2 separate regions of the Homo sapiens genome follow, and region 1 is linked to region 2. The links come from fine-mapping of genetic effects on gene expression. Tissue or cell type: whole blood. Region 2 holds a variant in brackets; the other region holds the start of a gene. All regions are shown on one strand. Distances are from middle to middle.

Evidence for each region. PIP is the estimated chance that this variant, and not a neighbour inherited with it, causes the effect.
Region 1: it holds the start of PABPC4, and the variant in region 2 is fine-mapped to the expression of PABPC4 in whole blood (TOPMed, PIP above 0.99).

Annotation. Positions count from the first base shown.
Region 1 is chr1:39,571,854-39,580,036 of GRCh38, forward strand. It overlaps PABPC4 (poly(A) binding protein cytoplasmic 4), which reads right to left and starts at 4,937. Exons shown (of 16, transcript NM_001135653.2): 1 at 3,906-4,937; 2 at 540-733. The coding sequence starts at 4,098. It overlaps PABPC4-AS1 (PABPC4 antisense RNA 1), which reads left to right. Exons shown (of 4, transcript NR_125979.1): 3 at 602-825; 4 at 1,228-1,350. RefSeq lists enhancers at 3,622-3,741, 3,762-3,811, 4,312-4,381 and a silencer at 4,882-5,191.
Region 2 is chr1:39,466,949-39,475,131 of GRCh38, forward strand. MACF1 (microtubule actin crosslinking factor 1) reads left to right here. Exons shown (of 101, transcript NM_001394062.1): 96 at 1,667-1,784; 97 at 2,599-2,667. Among named protein-coding and RNA genes, the nearest start is that of BMP8A, 21 kb to the right of the region's middle. RefSeq lists a silencer at 1,166-1,306. The variant C/T (reference allele first, on the strand shown) is at 3,841.

The DNA of each region.
Region 1 (8,183 bases), 100 kb after region 2:
CAGACAGAGCAAGACTCTGTCTCTTTAAAACACAACAACACATTTTAAGAGATCTGGGTGCAAACCACGGTGATGCAGAAAACAAAACATTTTCCAAGGCCACAACAGATTTTCAGTGTAGTATGGCATTAAACATATACACCACCACCGTTTAAGTTTTAAAGTGCTCAGCATAGAACAGATACGTAGAAGGAATAGAGTGAATTTATGCTTCTAAAGTGATTAAGTTTCCTCAAGACTAGAGACACTTCTCTGGTCCTCTACTTTCCCCCATCCCAAAAGAAAAACGTGGGCTTTCCAAAGCTAAAGAATAGGAAGGATATTTCAGGCTGAGTAAAGAACAAGGGTATGAAAGCGTGTGCTGGTTACGCTGGGTATGGCCCTGAGATTACCTATGGGAACTTTTAGGATTCCATGTCCAGCATTTTGAAAATTCCCATATCTTGTTCCCCAATTCCAAGATAGTTCTCTGTTTGGTATTTATCTTGTTTTCAAGAATCAATTAATTATTCTGCTAAAATCATTTAATCAATGTTTACCTTGCAGGACAGTATGTTTCCAAAAGCAGAAAAAGTATCATAAAGTGCCTTGTTATCTATAGATTTGTCCAGGTTCTTGATGAAGACGTTTCCCACACCAGATTTTCTCAAAGAGGGATCCCTCTGAGACCACATGATGCGGATTGGCTTTCCCTTAATCACATCAAAGTTCATGGTGTCCAAAGCCCGCTCAGCTGTAAGAGAGAAACACATTTCAATAAGGAGAGAAAACGTCAGCTCCCACAGGCCAACAGCCTAAGAACAGATTACTCCAGGACTTTTCAAGGTAATCACTCTTGATAAAAGGCAACTCTATTAAAATAAAAGGGCATCAGATTCCTCCAGCCTGCACTGTTAGTAAGGGAAGCATAAGTTCCAGCTAATGACTCTACTTCATGACAGAAGTCTAAACACCCTTCTGGGTCTGTGCCCTTGTTGGATAAAGGGGCCACAAGTAAAGATAATCTAAATGGCCTTAATGACACCAAGATCCAGTGATAATACCTCACATTTGACTAAGCTTTACCACTTAGAAGAGACTTTGCAGACTACCACCCACCATGACTCAGGTGGGACAGCTGAAATTATACATTTTACAAAATGAACAAACTTATGTTTAGGGTAACTAAGCTGTGCAGCTAGCTAGTAATTACGAAACTAATACTAGATTATCTGATTTATTTTTCAGTGAGGTATTGCATCAAAGTTATCAAGTCATTTAGTCTGCAATCCACCTATGGAGACAAGTGACAAAACCTGTAAAGCAAATGATCTGGAAAAAAAAAAAAAGGTGCTATCCCTGAATTCAGAATTCAGTCCAGTTTATTTTCAATTTCTGAGAACAGAAATTGACTTAAACAAAAAAGCATCAGTCATCAAAATGGACACAACTGATCACACATGGAAAAGTTCTCTGTACTATCACAAGGATAAAACCACCATACCTTCTGCCTAAGTAGACAGTGCGCAGATGGCAGGCCCTGCACCCACCTTTTGAAGCCTTAATGGAAGTTCTGTAGAATTCTAGGACTTCAGCTACCCTGGGTGCTCAACCAACTTCCCCATCCAACACCTTGGAATGCTTCCTTAGCTTCCCAACCAAGTCCGTGTGTACACCAGAGACAATTTAAAGAACCAAAGGCTGGGCTGGGTATGGTGGCTCACTCCTGTAATCCCAGCACTTTGGGAGGCCAAGGCGGGTGGATTACCTGAGGTCAGGAGTTCGAGACCAGCCTGACCAACATGGTGAAAACCCCATCTCTACTAAAAATACACAATTAGCTGGGCATGGTGGCGGGTGCCTGTAATCCCAGCTACTCAGGAGACTGAGGCAGGAAAATTGTTTGGACCCAGGAGTCAGAGGTTGCAGTGAGCTGAGATCGCGCCATTGCACTCCAGCCTGGGCAGCAAGAGTGAAACAGTGTCTCAAAACAAACAACAACAAAAAGAACCAAAAGCTAAAAAATAACACCACCTGCCAGCCAAAACACTTCTCATCACTAATCGCAACAAGGATGCCCAGATCTGGTGGCCACTTTTCCTTAAGGCTATGATGGCATCTCCTAACGGTGACATCACCCAGAACCTCCTCCATGAGGGGATTTAGACAGGGTCAGAGCAGTGGAACCTGCTCCTTGCCTCAGGACAACATCTCACTTAAAGGGGGGACAAAATTCCCCAACTCTGCCGCTCCACAAGCTCAACTGTTTCATTAGCCGGGAGAATTTATTTTCACTCATTATTTCCAACAACTTTCCCCACCCCCTTCAGAAGGTGGGCCTCATCTGTGTGGGGGGTAGTTGGGAAAAGGGGAGATGACAAGACCGATCCAAGTCAGGAACAGTCCAGGGAAAGAGGACTTTGCTTGTGATGGCTATCAGAGATAGATAGCTGGGATCGCAAACTATTTCATTAATTAGCAGTAAAGGAGCCCACTTCAACAACAGCTCCTCGTCTATTTCCAGACAGCACTGCACAAGGCAAGCCGGCTTAGTCTGACAAATCTGGCTGCACTTATTTATAGCAGGGAGAAGTCCTGCAGAAGTATGTGTTGGCAGACACACTGACCAATAGCTTCTGCTATCTCTAAGTGACACGACTTTTGTTCAAAAGTCAGTAAGGCAGACAACAGCTAATGTGGTACATTATCCCTTAAAAAGACCACACTCAGCTACCTTTGCGCTCCTATGGCCATGGACAGAACTCAGCTTGGAGCACACTGGATTGACAGTAGCAATACCTAGTCCCTCTCAACATGTCCAATTCTCTGGTCTCAGCCGCAACCTGGGCAGGTAGTAACTCTGGGCCTCAGACAGAAAACAAAGGGGGGACCCCAAAACTAGGGACCTGGAGATGCTTTGCCATAGAATGGCTTGTTTCTCCCAGTAATGATCTCTGCAGTTGTTCCCTTTTAATCTGGAGTCACGTGCAGCCTCTGATCAGGTTTCCTCTGGCCTCCCTCCTGCCACGCCTGCAGCATACCTCTCTCCATGCTCCACGCTAAGGCCACAATCTGAGGTGGCAGAGCACTGTGCTGGGAGTCCTAACTTGGCTTCCAACTTTTTGCATTCGTTCTCCTTCTCAGGAGTCCCATTTTCTTCAGATTAGATGAAATAAAAGGGCTCTGACTAGTGCAAAGCACTGTTACAGCTGAGGTGACAAATGACACCAGATTTTCAAGTGACGCTTCCCTAAACTACCTCCACGACACTCTACAGCACAGAGCCTGGATACCATTTGTCCAGAGTAAAGCACTTCTCCACTCCAGTGGCAAACACACAGACCAAGGAGGTGGCCTGGCACACGCAGCTTTTGTGGCACTAACCTAAGTCTCTGCGAAAGTTTAACGCACAGAAACCTTCCCCCTGCTTCCTGCCTGCCCTGACTGATCCTTTATCAGCACAACATCAGGTAGTCAAGGTTAGTAAAGGTGGCGGAGCGGGCAGGAGCTTTACAATGTAAAACTTTCGCGGGGAATTGTGTTTCAAACGTCCCGCCTTTTTGGCCAGCCTGTGAGGGGCACAAGCAAGGATCTCTAACAGCCCAGCCCCACTGACAAGGACCACACGCAGTGGAATGCCAGTGGCTTCACTCTAATCCTGTTTTACAGTCTCCTTGGTTTCCAACCCCACTACCAGCAACACTAATAAGTAGCCCAAGGTCACCCAGTTAGCAAGTGGTAGAAACAAGATTGAAACTCGAGTCATCTGATGCCAGGTCCGCGTTCTCAATCTCCGCACCCTGCTCCCAGCTTCGGTGGCAACATGCTGTCGTGATGCCGCCCTCCTCGGCAGGAGGGCCCTGCCAGAAGACGACTCCCGGGGTCCTCCGGGCTCCCACGCACGTGTGGGCACAGCTTCTACTCACCGTCGGCCGGCTGCTGGAAGTTGACGTAGGCATAGCCCAGGGAGCGGCGGGTGATCATATCGCGGCAGACCCGGATGGACAGCACAGGCCCCGCGGGGCTGAACTTTTCGTACAGCATGGCCTCGGTGACGTCCGAATGCAGGTCGCCCACGTACAGGGAGGCCATGGGGTAGCTGCTGGCCGCAGCGTTCATCTCCCCGCCCCCCACCACCCCGAGCCCCGCCAGGAGGACTTCTTATCGGGCCCGCCGCAGGACAAAGGGGCGCCTTCGGAGCCCGGGCCCGCGCCGCGGCTCACAGGTGGCACCGGCGCGGCGAGGACGAGCTGGAGTCGGCGGGCTTGGAGACGGGACGGAAACGGGAGGCGGGGGCCGGCTCCCACGGCCGCAGCACCGCAGACAAAAGGCTCTCCGCACAATACGGCCCTCCCCGCGACTTTGCACTTCTCCGCGGTCCTGGTGCGAAGCTCCAAATTTCAAAAAATCAAAGTAGGAAAAAAATTAAACGGGGAATCCCCTTCCGAAGGGTAAAAATCCTTTAAGAGGCGACCGGACGCTGCCCACGGCGGCCTCGGGGACACGCGTTTCTCTATAAATATAGGCCTCGGGCTCCGGCGGTTTAAGATTACAACCGCCGGGGCAGAGGGAAACCAAATCTTTGTGGGCGCCGACTCGGCGAGCCCCGGGCGGGCGGCGAAGGGCAGCACGGACACGTGGTGCGCCGGGGCAGGCGCGGGGCGCGGGGCTCGGGGCCCGAGCGGGGGGAGGGCACGGCGGGCCGGGCGGGCGGCTCACCCCCGGACCGACGGACGGAGACCGACGGACGCCAAGCGCTGCGGCGGCGGGCGCGGGGCAGGCCGGAAGCGTACGAAAGTGACTTCCCCGCGGGTTCTCCGAGGATTCGTTTTTTCTTTTCCTTTTTTTTTTTCAGGATTTTGAAGCGTTTTCAGATTTTTTTTATCTTTTTCTCTTTTTTTCCTCAGGCTGCGAAGCCCGAAAGCGGCGGAGGCGGCAGCGACCCGGGGCGGAGAGAGGCGGCCGAGGGAGCCACCGCTCCATTTATACCCGCCCGCCCCGGGCGCTGCTGGTCGAAGGGCGCCTCGCGACCTGGGCGCAGTCGTGCCCGCCCACTCGGCCCGGGGGCCCGAGGCGGGGCGGCCACGCGAGAGCGACCCGGCGCGGCCGCGCGGCGCTACAGCGACCCCTGGCGCCGGGAGGACCGCCCAGCTCGCGGCTGCGGGAGACCCCAGGGCCCCTTTCTATAACAAATAAATCTTAACACCCTCCCACCCATCACCCGGGAATGGAACCTAGGAGCCATTTAACCTGCACACACGCATGAGGTTTAAAATTAAATGGTATGGGGCTGGGTGCAGTGGCTCACGCCTGTAATCCCAGCACTTTGGGAGGCCGAGGCGGATGGATCATGGAGGTCAGGAGATCGAGACCATCCTGGCTAACGCGGTGAAACCCCGTCTCTACTAAAAATACAAAACATTAGCCGGGCGTGGTGGCATGCGCCTGTAGTCCTAGCTACTCGGGAGGCTGAGCAGGAGAATAGCTTGAACCCGGGAGGCGGAGGTCGCGGTGAGCCAAGATCGTGCCACTGCACTCCATCCAGCCTGGGCAACAGAGTGAGACTCCCTCTCAAAAAAAAAAAAATTAAATGGTATGCCAAATTGTGAAATGAAGGTGACATAAAATAAGTTAAAATAAAATAATAGGTGGTCCAATAGGTAAATGTCTGGGTCCAAATACAATAAAGATTTGAGAAGTTTTCAGGATACCGTTGACCTAGAGGTAGAATCGTCAGGAACTAGAAATGCAAGCAGTATCCATGGGTGATGGGATTTTCTGAAAAGATGAGCACATTTTGGTAAAGCTTCAATGAAACCAAACACAAGCATCCCCTCTATTGACATGCTGGTGGCATTCCCGGACATTTAGTTTGTGTTTAAGGGCACAGAAATACTTTCTGTTCCTATGTTTAAAGTTTCTTCTAGGCTTGGATAATTATAAAAAGACTTTTCATCTGCATGAGAGTCTGGCAGGTCATTTGAAAGTCGTATCACAGGCCAGGCGTGGTGGCTCACGCCTGTAATCCCAGCACTTTGGGAGGCCGAGGCGGGCGGATCACTGAGGTCGAGAGTTCGAGACCAGCATGACCAACATGAAGAAACCCCCGTCTCTCCTAAAAATACAAAAAGTAGCCAGACATGGGGGTGCATGCCTGTAATCCCAGCTACTCAGGCGGCTAAAGCAGAAGAATCGCTTGAACCCGGCAGGCAGAGGTTGTGGTGAGCTGAGATCATGCCATTGCACTCTAGCCTGGGCAACAAGAGCGAAACTCCGTCTCAAAAAAAAAAAAGTCATATCACTTTATAGGACTATGTTATATGGGACTGTCCACACGCATTACAAGATATATAGCATCCCTTCTTCCATAAGTGCCAGGAACCACCTTTGCCATCACTGTGAAAACCAAAAACAGAAATTGCCAAAAGACACAGACATCCCCCTTCAAAAGCACTGATTTAAGTAAATGACTAAAGAAATATGTGTATTTATATATTAATTAATTCAAATAAATGGTTAATCTGAGCCTACTCTATGCCAATGTCAATACAGGGGCTGGAGATACCATGGTGGACCAGAAGTCACTCCCTCTCTCATGGAGTTTATATTCTAATAACTATATTAAATCAAGAAACATTGGCTGGGCACGATGGCTCACACCTGTAATCCCAGCACTTTGGCAGGCTGAGGTGAGCGGATCACCTGAGGTCAGGAGTTCGAGACCAGCCTGGCCAACATGGTGAAACCCCATCTCTACTAAAAATACAAAATTAGCCGGGCATGATGGCACGTGCCTATAGTCCCAGCTACTTGGAAGGCTGAGGCAGGAGAATCGCTGGAACCCAGGAGGCAGCGGTTGCAGTAAGCTGAGATCATGCTACTGCACTCCAGCCTGGGTGACAGAGCGAGACTCCGTCTCAAAAAAAAAGGAACATTTATGGGAGTGCTCCTTCTATAGATTCCCTCCTCAGGAAAGTCTTCCTAGACCTCCTGTGGTCTAAAGTAGCCGTCAACATTGTTAATCACTATCACACCAACTTGTCTTCTTGTCTTCAAGCCTGTTATTCCTACCCAAAATTATGTTGTTCTATATCTGTTTACCTGTTTAGTATCTATCTTTTCCACATTGGTATATAAGCTTCATGAGAACAGGAATCTAGAATAGTGCTTAACATAGCACGTACTAAATGTTCAGTAACTGGCCAGGCAGGTGGCTCACACCTATACTCTCAGTGCTTTGGGAGGCTGAGGCAGGAGGATCGCTTGAGCCCAGACATTTGAAACCAGCCTGGGCAACAGAGTGAGACCCTATCTCTACAAAAAAAAATTTTCTTTTAATTGGCTGGGTGTGGGGACACATGCCTGTGGTCTCAGCTACTTGGGAGTCTGAGGTAGGAGGATCGCTTGAGGCCAGGAGTTGAAGGCTGTAGTGAGCTATGATCATGTCGCTGCACTCCAGGCTGAGCAACAGAGTGAGACTCTGTTACTAAAAAATAAATAGATAAATAAATATTCAATATATGTTTGTGTGTGTGTGTGTGTGTGTGTGTGTGTGTGTGTGTGTTTTCTTGTTTTTTTTGTGGGGGGGGTATGAAATCTTCCTCTGTCACCGAGGCTGGAGTGCAGTGGTGCAGTCTCGGCTCACTGCAACCTCTGCCTCCCAGGTTCAAGCAATTCTCATGCCTCAGCCTCCCAAGTAGCTGGGATTGCAGGCATGCGCCACCACACCTGGCTATTTTTTTTTTTGAAACCAACTCTCGCTCTATTGGCAGGCTGGAGTGCAGTACTGCGATCTAGGCTCACTGCAACTTCCGCCTCCCGGATTCAAGCAATTCTCCTGCCTCAGCCTCCCGAGTAGCTGGGACTACAGGTGCGTGCCACCACACCTGGCTAATTTTTGTATTTTTAGTAGAGATGGGGTTTCACCATGTTGGCCAGGATGGTCTCAATCTCTTGACCTTGTAATCTGCCCGCCTCGGCCTCCCAAAGTGCTGGGATTACAGGGGTGAGCCACCACGCCCAGCCTTTTTTTTTTTTTTTTTTTTTTTGAGACAGAGACTTGCTCTGTCACCCAGGCTGGAGTGCAGTGGCGTGATGTCGGCTCACTGCAACCGCCACCTCCCGGATTCAAGTGATTCTCCTGCCTCAGCCTCCCAAGTAGCTGGAATTACAGGCACCCACCACTATGCCCAGCTACTTTTTGT
Region 2 (8,183 bases):
GGAATATGGAGAATTACCACAAGTATATTAATTTTGAGGGAGGATGGCTATATGACCTCAGATATCCTTTCTTGCATTTTCAATTTTTCTGCCTTGTTTTAAAGTTACAGTTGTCCTTTATAACTTTGAAAATCCTGGCCGGGCGTGGTGGCTTATGCCTGTAATCCCAGCACTTTGGGAGGCCGAGACGGGCAGATCACGAGGTCAGGAGATCGAGACTAACCTGGCTAACACGGTGAAACACCGTCTCTACTAAAAATACAAAAAATTAGCCGGCCTGGTGGCGGGCGCCTGTAGTCCCAGCTACTCGGAAGGCTGAGGCAGGAGAATGGCATGAACCCAGGAGGCGGAGCTTGCAATGAGCCAAGATCGCGCCACTGCACTCCAGCCTAGGCGACAGAACGAGACTCCATCTCAAAAAAAAGAAAAAGAAAAAGAAAATCCTACCAACTCCATACCCGAGGAACCCTTGAATTGAATGATTTTAGGAATTCCATTTCTCCTACCAGATGTTTGTTTGTTTTGGAAACTCTGCATACTTCTCTTTTGTTGCTCCTTACTTCATTTTGGAAAGAGGGTAATTTATGCCATGAGAAACTCCAGATGTTTAGAGCTGGGAAGTAGGAATGTTTGGGCAAGAAAAAAGGGAAAACATAAATAATCAGAAATATGCTTGTTTTAGCATCTAAAATGATTATTGGATACTGTTCATAATCATCATGGGAGCTACAATTTTTAATTGCTTCAACTCAATTTTAGTATAAATATGACCTAATCATTTGTTCAGCTGAAGAAACTTTTCTGCTGGTGACACTGCAATTAGCAAATACTTCGGGTTAATTCCTGAAAACCTGATGCAGAAAATCAGATTTTCTTCTAAGCTTGTAATGATGCTTTGCAAAGGTTTCCTTAAGGCTTGAAATAGTATTCACTATTTTCCATTTAGCTTTAAAGCATACTGTATTCAGAAGTTGATATCCACAATCTTTCTTTTAGGAAAACAAATTAGCATGCCAAGAATATGAATTTTTAATTGAGCAGAATCTCTTTTAAAAAAATAAAGTGACCTAACACTTTGTCTGTTTTCCTACCTCTCCTTTTGGTGCAGAGGCAGTGGTGTGACCATTAAAAGTGATTTTTATCCCAATAGAAAGTATATTGGCCCGGCGCAGTGTCTCATGCCTGTATTCCCAGCCCTTTGGGAGGCCAAGACTGGCGGATCACGAGGTCAGGAGTTCAAGACAGCCTGGCAAACATGTTGAAACCCCGTCTCTACTAACAATACAAAAATTAGCTGGGCGTGATGGCACACGCCTAATAAACCCAGCTACTCGGGAGGCTGAGGCAGGAGAATTGCTTGAACCTGGGAGGCAGAGGTTACAGTAAGCTGAGATCACACTGTTGTACTCCAGCCTGGGCAACAAGAGTGAAACTCTGTCTCACAAAGAAAAAAGTATATCAAGACACCAGTCTTTAGCTTGATATTTCTGCTTTTCTATTTTTAAAATCCTTTTGTGAAATATATAAAAATGCAAAATTGTGAGAGTTAACAATTCTTCTGTAGCTATCAAATTGTCATTCCTGTCTGAATACAGTCTGCTTTGGGAGAAAAACATAGATCTGCTTTAAGACATATATATTAATTAAGTTTCCTTTGATTCTACAGTTTGGGGATTCTCAGCAGTTGCGGCTGGTCCGTATTCTGCGCAGCACCGTGATGGTTCGCGTTGGTGGAGGATGGATGGCCTTGGATGAATTTTTAGTGAAAAATGATCCCTGCCGAGGTAAGGAACCATTCTAAGCATGAATTACGTGTTAGGTATGCCCCCAGCAGTGATCTTTTATGCTTACAGGAAGCATTGATGGTGGGGTCTGTCTGTTTTTTATTTTGTTAAGCTGCCCAGGTGTCATCCCACTAGCACAGATTAGAACTCAGGGGTGCCAGCATAGGCCAGGGAGAAAAAGCTGAAGAGGTTGATGCTATTTGGGGAGGTAGGTCTAGAGGAATGCAGTAATGAGAATTAAGAGTGTATTGGTGTTACTCGAATGTTTGTTTGGGGTATTAAATTAACACTATCCTAGAAAGGAGCCCAGTGAAGCCCTTTAGGTTCCCTCTTAGTGCCTCAGATCCCTTTGCCTGTAATTCCTGTGGCTGATACTCAGGGAGAGTGTTAGGCCCTTCTCATACAGGGAAGAACTGGTGAGCCCCCTGGACCAGGAGGAAGGATAAAGACACCTACATGTGAGCCCATTCACTTCTAAGACAGGTGGCCACCTAAGCAAGACCATGGGGTGTCTTTCTGCTAAATGTGAAAAGGCTGGCCCACCAGCCCAGAAGCATAAGGAGACTGTCAATTTAATATGAGCATGAGTGGTGGCATCTGCAGCTAGGGGGTGTGTGGGGACTGCAACAGGGAAGAGATGACCGGTTCCAATTGCTAAATCCTCTTCAGCTATGTCCTTGCCTTTTTCCTGTTAGCAGAGCTGCATGTGGGTGCACAGGAGGCTCCCCCACTGTCTGCCAATTTGTCTTTCTTGACTAGTTTCTGCGTTTCCTGCCCTGTCTGTTTCTTTCTGTTTACGTATTTTTTATTCTAGTTCACCATCCTGGGAGTAAAATAAAGCGCTCTGATTCCAGCTCTTCGATTTCCAGTCAGTCTCCCATAGGTTGGCTTTTAAGCTTTGTCCCTCTTCCTCACACCCTAGCCCATTGAGAATGGCTTTGCTTCTTAAACTGTAACATCTCTTGGTTCTGTGTATCTGCTGCATTCATGAATGCTTGAAATGGCCAAACCATAGCTTTTCTAACTACTCAAGTTGATGGTGCATAAAATACTGTTGAGACAGTGTCCATGGAATTTGTTTTGAGTTTCTATTTAACAAATACTTATATAGTTTTATGTGCCACACACTATTACAAGTACTTTACAAGTAACACATTTATGCCTCATATGAAGTGTAGATGCTCTTATCTCTGTTTTACAGAATAGGAAATTGAGGCATAGAAAACGTAAATAATTTGCCCAAAGACAAACAACTAGTAAATGGCAGAGATGAGATTCAAATTCAGGGCAATCTGGGTCTGGAGTATGTGCCCCTAGTCAGCATGTTATATCTTTCAGAGGCTGACACACCTTTGTGTATGTTTATTATTGGATCACCTGCATAATTATTAAGGTTTATTTATAAACCTAGCAGAAATGTTTGCTGTACAGTACATAACTTCTTTGGAAATGATTTATAGTCATATTCTGAAGCATTTAGTGAGGACAGAGCTAAAGATAGCAGTTTTCACATGAATTCAGATATGCCCCTAAGTAGTTCCTCTTATTTTAACTCATTCTGTGTTTACTACAGTAAACCAGAGTAAAAATTCAGCAGTAATAATTTTCATTAGAGGTTCCTTTTTTAAAAAAATTGGGGCCAGGTACAGTGGAATCCCAGTACATTGGGAGCCCAAGGCAGGAGGATTGTTGAAGCTCAGAAGTTCAAGACCATCTTTAGCAACATAGTGAAACCCCATCTCCACAAAAAAAAATTTAAAAATTAGCTAAGCATGGTGGTACACACCTGTGTAGTCCTAACTACTCTGGAGGCTGAGGTGGGAGTATTGCTTGAGCCCAGGAGTTCAAAGCTACAGTGAGCCATGATCATGCCACTGCACTCCAGCCTGGGCAACAAGGCAAGACTCTTGTCTACAAAAAAGTAATTTTGAAAACACTTAAAAACTTGAAAGTATTTAGTTTTAGAATTTAAAAGCTGTCTTTTATTGCTTTAATGAGAAACAATATATGCCATTTTAACTTTAACTCAGTAAAACAACTTTATTCCTTTCCAAAT[C/T]TATGAATAAGGTCCTATTTTTCCTGTCATGTATGATCAGACTAAATAAAAGAGATATTGCATGTGGCATTTTGGAATCCTTGATTGCCTGTTTATTTGCTGCCTGCTCTATTTATGATAACATCATGCTGCTGGCCAAGGAGAACACTGCTTGCTTTGTCCTTATCTTAGTATCTAAAATTTGGAACCCCAAGGAAATTGGGGAGGGCCATCTAGAAGCTATTTTCTATGAAAGCTAGTAACCTTTTTTAGCATCCCTTGGAACAAGCAAGGTAAGACTTTCCTGTGTCTCTCCAGGAGTGCTCTCCTGGAACTCAGTAATCATCTCAATCCATTGACTGTGGAGAGAACTCTCCAGAAGTTTTAAATTTCGTAACTCTGTCAGTGATGGGCAGGATGAGCTATTTTTAATCAAATAAAAAATGGTGCTAGGCGATGAACACCTAAGGACTAGGATGGATTATAATAAGTTAGAAGGGTATGAAGGATGAGAAGAGAACAAAGTTACTTGAAACTATATTGGAAGTTCTATAAGGATTAATGTGGCTTCTGGAAACAGTGCTTATGGTAGGTTTTGTACTCATTTATGTTGCATATTTCCTTGGGTCTCTGGAATGTAGAGAATGCTATACTGAGGACAGTACAAGATGTGTGACAAGGTTCTTAACACCAGTGTGCACTATCATTTCTTACCTCCTTTTACACAGCTATTTTAAAAGGTAGAAGATATCTCAAACTGCATGTAGCTTTTAGTCATGTGTAAAAAAATGAAAATATTTTACTAGCTAGATTTGCCAGTCTCCTGGTACTGCCAAAATCAGATATTTCAGTTTCTGAATGTATCCGTGGCACAGGAAATCATGATGTTTTGGATAGAGAGAAAAAAAGTGCTCCTGCCTAAATAATGGGTATACTTGTACCTAAGGTACTGTGTATGTTTTTGATCATTAGACATATTAGCTCCCCCAGATAAGTGAACATCTAGGAAATTTCATTTATGAAGATTTAAAAGACACATTTTGAAATAGAACTCATTTTTTTTTTCAGATTGTTATACAGATAAAATTTACCATCCTAACCATTTTTAAGTACAGGACTAAGTATATTTGTGTCATACTACCGTCACCACCGTCCATCCACAGAACTCTCTTCATCTTGTAAAACTGAAACTCTATACCCATTAAACAATAGCTTAGAACTGAATTTTAACATGCCCGCATCAGCCAGTTTCAGGTGGCCAGCATAACTCCCTTAGCAAAGACAGCCTCTTTGGTGGTCAATGAACTGAACTTGAGGTGGCTGCCGTCATGTCTGGTTCTGTAGGTTCAATGGTAGATCTTTTCTCCAGTGAAAAGAATGGTGAGGGGGAAAATCCTATCACAGTAGTCAACCAAGTACTAGGAATCTTCTCTTTTTTTTAACTTTAGGACTATAATACCCAATTTTGGGAAATATTTGAATCAATGTAAATATTAAGAGTACCTTTACTACTAAATTCAAGTGCTAGTACATAAATTTTGCTTAATCAGAATTTGGTGTTTCCTTCTAGTTCGAGAAAAATGTTTACTTTTTACTTGTGGGATTGCTCCAGAAATCAATTTTCACAGCTTCCAACTGTTTATTGTTTGTTGTCGCCTCCTCCCATCCCAGCCTTTTCTATTATCAAAGTAAAAGTATTAATTGCCCCCTTAACACCTTTTTTAATTCTTAAAATTGGCCGCTTTAAGTTTATTTCTGAAGAAAGAGCTTTCATTTCTTCCAAGTGATATGTATATAAAATGTTCCTTACCAAGAATCGTTTCATTGCCTTGCATCTTCAAATATTTTCTTTTAAAATGCAAATATCCATGGGAGTTGTAGCATATTAAGCTAATATTAGCTAGGCATGGCTTGGGATAAATTAATTATTCATTGGTCTCTTGACCGAGATGAGAGCACCAGAAATGTGGGAATTTTACTATTGTGAGCTTAAGAGCATAAGGACCAAGAAGATGGAAATTACAGAGAGAGGAAGGAAAATAAAAGGGAGAAGACAAGCCTCTAAAGCCCCAATTAAAGTAAGCCATTATTTTTCACTTGAGTTTAGACCTTCTTAATGAGGCCTCATGGAAGCGTGCAGGAGCTAGCTAACCACTGTTTACAGTCTCAGATTGCCTTAATGCCTATGTTGCGTGTCTTTGGCATGGCTGTAGTAACCTGGAAGGATGACGTTAGAGAATTGTTCACACGTCTTTGCATCTCTGGCCAGTGAAATACTATCCCAAGAGGTGACCATTGGCTGGAGATTTCCTTATGAAAACAGAGACTGTCTCATTATGTTTATTTGTTTCGTTATGACGTGTAAGCGTACCCTGAGAAAATTATGAACTGTATTTTCCCAGCATCCTGCATGCACCCAGCTAGGAAAGCAAGTGAGACACCCTTTGGGCCCTCAGCAGTCATTTAATGAGGCGTTACAATGTACCTACCTCATGGTGGCCTCTGGGGCTAACAGGGTCATGATATAGGAGATCAGCATAGGATCCTGTGATAGAATTAAACAGGTCCTCAGATCACAAAATGCAAAGGTTGCTGTTAACATGGGATAATCTTCCTTCTTGTAGTATCTTTCTTATGGAAAGCTATTCTATCTGCTCTTTTAAATTGCTTTAATATTCTATATATAGTAGGTGTTGGCAGTCACAAATTTAACTTTGTGGTTTCAGTCATGAAAATTCATGGATTTGCATTTGTTTCTGCTGTGCAAGAGAGCCGGTCACACAGCGAGAGAGTGAGCCCCACTGGCCACTGACTCCTCACTTTAACACAGCTTGGTGCTTCTGTTCTTCATCCCCGTGAAATAATGAGCACTTCTCAATGGAAGCACTTAGTGAGTTCATGAAGGTTGCGAGATCCATTCCTTGAAACTGTTGAGAGACTTGTTTTCAGAGGCTATTTCAGAGAAACAGAGGCTACTCTGTTTCACACATACTTACTGAAACCCTAAATGCAAGCCTCGCACTGGGATCCAAAGGTAAATTAAGATGATGGTCCCTGCCTGCAGAAGCTCTCAGCCTAGTGCAGGGAACAAACATGTGAATACATGCCCTTCTATTTGGTAAAATGAATGGTTGAGAGAGCAAGAGGGGAAGAGATGACTCTGCCCATGAAGATGGAGAAGGTATCAGGAAAAGGACATAATTGGGCTGGGCATAGTGGCTCACGTGTACAATCCCAACACTTTGGGAGGCCTAGTAGGGAAGATCACTTCAGGCCAAGAATTTAAGACCAGCCTGGGCAACATAGCAAGACCCCATCTCTGTTTTAAAATAAAATACAGGCCGGGTGCAGCAGCTCATGCCTGTAATCCCAGCACTTTGGGAGGCCGAGGCGGGCAGATCATGAGGTCAGGAGTTCAAGACCAGCCGGGCCAATATGGTGAAACGCTGTTTCTACTGAAAATATAAAAAAATTAGCCGGGCATGGTGGCATGACCCTGTTGTCCCAGCTACTCGAGAGGCTGAGGCAGGAGAATCGCTTGAACCCAGGAGGCAGAGGTTGCAGTGAGCCGAGACTATGCCACTGCACTCCGTCCTAGGCAATAGAGGGAGACTCTGTCGCAAAAAATAATAATAAATAAATATATGGCCAGGCACAGTGGCTCACACCTGTAATCCTAGCACTCTGGGAGGCTGAGCCGGGCGGATCACCCGAGGTCAGGAGTTCAAGACCAGCCTGGCCCACATGGTGAAACCCTGTCTCTACTAAAAATACAAAAATTAACGGCCTGGTGGTGTACACATGTAACCCCAGCTACTCGAGAGACTGAGGCAGCAGAATCACTTGAACCGGGGAAGCGGAGGTTGTGGTGAGCTGAGATTGTGCCACTGCACTCCAGCCTGGGCAACAGAACAAGACTCCATCTCAAAAAATAACTAAATAAAAATAAATGTTTGTGTGTGTGTATAAGTGTATGTGTGTATATACTGCGCTCCAGCCTCAGCGACAGAGTGAGACTGTATCTCAAGAAAAAAGGTTTTGAAAAAGGAAAAGGAGGTGTTGCTTCAGCCACATCTTAAAGGAGGTAACACTTGACCAGAAGGAAAAGGGATCTGGATGTTCTTGGTACAGAAACCACAAGTTCATATGAACAGAAGTGTCAACAGCTGAAAAAGTAAGGGGACAAGTAGTCCCATGGGACTGCAGCCAAATGTACAAGGTTAGCGACCAGATAAGACTCTGGACGGGTCAGCAGGAGGGGCCAGGTGATGGATGCCAGACCACTGGGTCCTGGGTACTTACCACATTGTGCTTCCTAGTCCCCAAGATGTGGTCCTCAAAAAAACGAAAAGTCACGGTCAAAT